Regions from separate parts of the Homo sapiens genome. Here region 2 is linked to region 1. The links come from fine-mapping of genetic effects on gene expression. Tissue or cell type: regulatory T cells. Region 1 holds a variant in brackets; the other region holds the start of a gene. All regions are shown on one strand. Distances are between the middles of the regions.

Region 1 (2,756 bases):
GGAGCTTCACCATGTTGGCCAGGCTGGTCTCGAACTCCTGACTTCAAGTGATCATCCCACCTTGGCCTCCCAAACTGCTAGGATTACAGGCATGAGCCACCGCGCCTGGCCTGTGAGTCTTTTTTCGTTTTGCTTTCTTCATTCTCAGATTCTTTTTCTCCACATAGTAGAAAAGGTGGCCGTTGGTGACAACTCAACAGTTTACTGATTTCTACAGTTTTTGTTCTCCAAGGATAAGAAGAGAAAGTCCATAGTTTTCTCACTGTCCATGTATTGAATCCTAGAGATACTATTAATATAAGGGGCCCTGACTGCGTGGTTCTCGCCCCTTGGCCAGTCTCTGTGGATTGAGAGGGATAGGCCCTATGGTTGGTCAGGCCTAGATCATGCCCGCCCACAGGAGGGCCAGCCGCTCCTGTGAATCCCACTGAACCTCTGGGATAGACAAGCATAGACACTCTCTGTAGTTATCTTGCGGAACACGAAGAGGAACAAATAGGATGAGAACATCTTAAAGTGAAAATACTTGTCAGTTTATGAGATGAAAAAACAGTTATAAATCACTGTTTCATCTTGCTTTTATTTGATCATTTCAGTAATAGGTTTTTACCAGTATTTTTTACATTTTTATTTGGCTTTTGTATTTCTTCCATGAGTTGTCTTTTCATGTGTTTCGCTCTTTCCACTGTGATTTTAGTGGTCCTTACTTATAAGAACTCTTCATATAGGAGGGCTTCCCTTCTTTCATGCTTTGATATCTGAGAAATTATTATGTAACATGTATGAATTTTCACAATATGAAATCTTTAAGATGTTTTTCTAAAATATTAATTGATAAGCAATAAACAGTGAAAGTTTCCTATTCAGATACGAATAATAAATAGAAACATAATTTGAAATACTCTCCATTTGGAAAAAATCCAAATTGAATAATGGAGTAGATTTTATCTGTGAGGATTATTTACTTTTGGAAAACATTGTTTTCCAAAGCAAAATTTTTGGATATATAGGCCTGTATTTTTTTTTACATGTTAAGGAACAGTAGCCACATTGAATTTTGATGTGTAGCAACTTAGGTGTCCTTCACCGTTCTTTTTATTATAAAGAGCTCTGGGTCTTTTAGTGAAGAAAGTAAATGAAGACTTTTTTTTTTTTTTTT[TG/G]TGACAGAGTCCTCTGTTGTCCAGGCTGGAGTGCAGTGGCATGATCTCAGCTTACTGCAGCTCCGCCTCCCGGGTTCAAGCGATTCTCCTGCCTCAGCTTCCCGAGTAGCTGGGACTACAGGCGCGCACCACCATGCCCAGCTAATTTTTGTATTTTTGGTAGAGACAGGGTTTTGCCATGTTGGCCAGGCTGGTCTCGAACTCCTGACCTCAGGTGATCCACCCGTCTTGGCCTCCCAAAGTGCTGAGATCACAGGCGTGGGCACCACGCCTGTCCAAGACCTCGTTTCTTAAGTCAGTTCTTTGATTACGTAGTTTAACACGAATGTTTATGCCACTTAATAAATCTGTAACCCCAGTAGTTCATAAGTATGTTTTGAATGCATTATTTAATGTCTTAATGTAGTATGTGATATGCCTAGGATAAAGATGATTGATTTTCATCTAACAGAATATTTTATTTAAAAATTTAGAAGTCATTTGAAAGTGTGACAGCATGATGCTTTTGAATATATTTGTATATGAGATGAAAAATTTTTGTTTTCCGTTTGGTCAACTAAATAATATGTATTTTTCTACATTGGAAAATAAGATAAATTGGAATTATTCTTGTTTTTACATAATATGCACATTGGTAATAATTAAAGTGTATGTGAAAAGTAGAGTTTTTGAATTTGGATTATTCCTAACGAACACAGTATTTTTAAACCGGTAGAAAAGTCTTTATATTTTCAAAGGGAATCAAGAATTGGATTAGTATAGTCTGTAAATGTGAGGTAATGTAATTGTGTTTACTTTAAAAGTATGTTTAGCTTTTCCTTTTCTCCTTTTAACATACCAGTAAAAGGAATTTATTATAAAGAATGCAACAATACTGAAATGAGTAAGCCCAATGTTAGTCTCTTCTCCCACGCCTTCTCCATTCAGTCCTCCTTTAGAACAGGTGAGTATCTATCCTCCCACCTGTTTTTGCAGACATATCTAAAACTGATTATTTTAATCCAGTGTGTTTCAGAAATGTTCTCCAAAATATAGTAAGTTGGAAGAGATTGAATGAATACCATCAGGAAATCCAGGGACACAAAATTTGAAAATTGTATTTAATGCTTTGCAATAATGCTTAATCCATGCACAATTTGAATTTCACTCTCTTTAGTTTTGCAAGGCATAAAATCATTCTCCTCAAAGATTTATCCCAGTATAATTAAAGATGTATTCATACTGCATGAGTCAGATACTTTTTGAAGAATACAGTGTATTCCTCTTCACATCAGTATTCATTAATCTGTAACAGAATTATGGATCAGCAGACTCTATAAAACCAGGCTGCTTTATATGATGTATCATTTGAAGAAACTTTGTTAAACATGTGCAATTTAAATATCAAAATCAGTTTTAAATACTACAAGTTTTAGTGAAATTAAATTGTTATCCTCATTGAATTTTTAAAACTTCAGTTATCTTCTTGCTTTTGGAAAAAGAATTACTGCATTCTTACTGACATAATAGTAAACTGTCGTATACTTAGTAAAAAGTGGTGCATAGAGAAATTTTCAAAATGTCTTCTCTTCCTAAAATGTAAAGAGCTGCTTTTAA
Region 2 (2,756 bases), 110 kb before region 1:
AAAGAAACAGGACCTCAGGTGGTGGGCGGGCGGGGAAGGAGAAGGGATGTTTCTAAGTCTACAGGGGAGAGTGTAGAAAGAAAGAAGGAAAAGGTAAGAGGACTCCACAGTTTCTAGGTTTTGTTCTTCTTTTTTTCCCTCTGGACAGCGGTGGCAGCTGATCAGACACAATAGCTGGCAGTCCCCGGCCGCAGTGAGGATAAAAATGACCCTCAACAGCACCAGCAGGAGCACCGAGAAGGGGAGGGGAGTGTGTATGGGAGGGGGCGAGGATGAGGGTGACAAGGTGACAAACGCTGCCTCTGACTGCGAGCAACTCCCCCTCCAGCCCCGCGAGGCTCGGAGCCGGGGAGCCACCTCCCCGGAGCGGGGCGGGGTGGGAAGGAGAGGCCGAGGGGGCGGTGGCCTTCACCCGGGGGCGGGGAAGAGGGCGGAGGGAAGCCTGATTTACCAGCCCCTGATTGGTTCGCGTTCTCTCGTCGCGTCTCCCGATTGGGTAATTTGCAGCGGGAGATGTTGTGAGGCACGGCGGGGCGGAGCGAGCTGCCGGGGTCTGTGACAAGGCCCGGGAATTGGGTGGGGAGGGTGGCGGTTGTGCCGCGGCTCCGGAGCCGCTGTGACCTGGAGTGTGGCGGACAGAGAAGCGCAGCCGCCTCTCCACAGTTCCGCTAGCCGCGCCAAATTCGCTCAGCCGCTCTGCAGAATTTATAAAAGGGAAAGAACTGAATGAGCAACGCTTGGCTAACTTCCCCCTTCCCACCACAGGAAGAGATTTTTGCTGTGAGGCGTGAGGGGACACTCCCTTATCTGGAAGTCCCACGTCTCGTCGCAGCTTCATTGCCTTCCCGCTGCAAAAAAGGGGTGGGGGCACAATTTGCCAAGCCCTGTCCCCCAATCTAGGACCTTTGATCCCTGGAGTCTGCAGATGTCGCTGTTATAGGCTTGTCCCCCTCTCCACCCCAGACGTCTACCACCAGGTCTCCTTTCCCGGGAGCAAGCCCATCCCTGGACGCTGCCGTTCAGCGCTTGGGAGACTGCAGGGGCGGGGAGCGTTGTGTGCCTGGTTTTGGGGTGCTGGGGGGCGAGGGCTTGTAGGTCCCGCGACCCACGGGGAGGGGGCAGGCGAGCACCCCGCTCCGGCCTCCGGCTAATCCCCCTTCTCCAGCGTCGGTTCCCCGGTCCCGTGTTATTCAAGACAGAAAATATTCAGCCCCAGAGCCTCCCCTGGGGAGGGGAGGGGAAGGAGGTGGAGTGGGAGGAGGTGGATCCAGGGAGGAAGAAGCGAGAAATCCGCCCCCGGGAAACAGCTCCGCGCGGCCACGGAGCGAGGCGCTTCTGTCACTTGGCGTTCGCGGGCGCCGGAGCTGGGCCCCGGCCCGGCCCGGCGAGGCGAGGGGAGAGTCCGGCGGCCGCCGCCCCGCCCCACGCCCTCCTGCGGCGGCCGAGAGCCCGGGGCCGGCCGGGGCAGGTCGCGGCGGTGCCTGGGAGCGGCCGGCCGGGGGCGGCGGCCTCGGAGCGCGGCGGCGGCGGCGGCGGCGGCGGCGGGCAGCGCGGGATCGTCCGGCTGCGGGGTCCGGCTCACGCCGGGCGGGCGGGCGGGGCGCGCTGTCCCGGAGCCGGCCAGCCCCGTGCGGATCCACTCGTCCCGCTTCCTCTGGTGCGTGTCTGGTTTCTTTTCCGTCTCAGCCGAGAGGGCGCTGCGCTCGCGGGCCGTGGAGTGCCCGGCTTGCCGCGGGCTCTCTCCCTTCCCGCCACAGGCCACCCGGCCGGGCGCTGGCTCGGGGCCGGAGGGAGCCCGCGGCGGGCGCCCGGCGGGGGCGGAGGGGCCGCGCCCGCGTGTGCGGAGCAAGGGCGGGCGGCGGGGCGGAGGGAAGGGCACAAAGGCCGGCGGTGGGCGCTGGGGTCCGGCCGGCCAGCCTTGGAGGAGGGGCGCCTGGGGCCGCTCATGAATATTAACCGAGCCTGCGGCCTAGCGCGTCCCGGCCGGGCCCGGCGCCCGGCCAGCGTCTCCGCTTCAGCTCGCCGCCGCGCTTCGGCCGCCGGGCCCGAGCGGGCGGGAAGGGTAAGGCCCCCGGTTTTGTCTCGCCCCGGGGCTCCTAGCACCTTTGAGAAAGTCCATATTGGGGCCGCTCTCCTCGGGAGCTCGAGGTCCCCGACCCGCCTCAGGAAGGGGCGGGGGAATCGTGGGGAGGTGGGTGGTGGTTTGCTTTTTCTCGTTTTTTCCCCCTAGGTGGCCACAGGGGAAGGGAAGCCGTGTCGAGTGGTAGTTGGGGGAAAAGCCGCGACTTCAGAGTTGCTCGGGTGTAGCTCCAGAATCATGCCCTGGAGCGGGAGCGGCGCCGGCGTCCCACCCGCGGCCGCGCACGCCTCCCCGGCCGTCCCCACCCAGCCCCGCCGCGGGCCAAGGAAAACAGCCGCCTCCTCGGGGACGCCGGCCGGGGCGGAGGGGCGGAGGGGCGGCGCCCGAGTCACCCGGAGACGCCGCCGAGCCCACGCCGGCCCCAGCCAGGCTGGCTTTGTGCTTGCGTTTTTGGGGGGCGGAGGGGAGCGAAGAGGGGGCTTGGAAAGTGTGATCCCATTTCAGCCTCGTGGGGGAGAAAACTTCACCGAAGTGTCCCTGTCTGGGTGATGCAGAAAACAACATGCACAGCCCTCTGCTCTACCCAGGAAAGACATGAATTAAAATGCACTTGAATGGGGAACATTTTTTCTTGAAGGCTGCATAACAGCCAGGTGTGTTTGACGCAACCGCTGGG

Which allele goes with the higher level. Alleles are on the strand shown, and positions count from the first base shown. SD is a standard deviation of normalised expression in the study named.
With allele TG in place of G in region 1, the expression in regulatory T cells of the gene that starts at base 1,332 in region 2 is lower (large effect, 0.91 SD a copy in Bossini-Castillo 2019).

Evidence for each region. PIP is the estimated chance that this variant, and not a neighbour inherited with it, causes the effect.
Region 2: ARHGAP21 starts here. The variant in region 1 is fine-mapped to the expression of ARHGAP21 in regulatory T cells (Bossini-Castillo 2019, PIP 0.95).

The regions. Positions count from the first base shown.
Region 1 is chr10:24,608,777-24,611,532 of GRCh38, reverse strand. All of the region lies in intron 9 of ARHGAP21 (Rho GTPase activating protein 21), which reads left to right. Among named protein-coding and RNA genes, the nearest start is that of ARHGAP21, 110 kb to the left of the region's middle. The variant TG/G (reference allele first, on the strand shown) is at 1,160.
Region 2 is chr10:24,722,463-24,725,218 of GRCh38, reverse strand. It overlaps ARHGAP21 (Rho GTPase activating protein 21), which reads left to right and starts at 1,332. Exons shown (of 26, transcript NM_020824.4): 1 at 1,332-1,657. RefSeq lists silencers at 213-592, 1,343-1,532, 1,563-1,632, 1,723-1,802, 1,823-2,182 and 1 more and an enhancer at 889-1,799.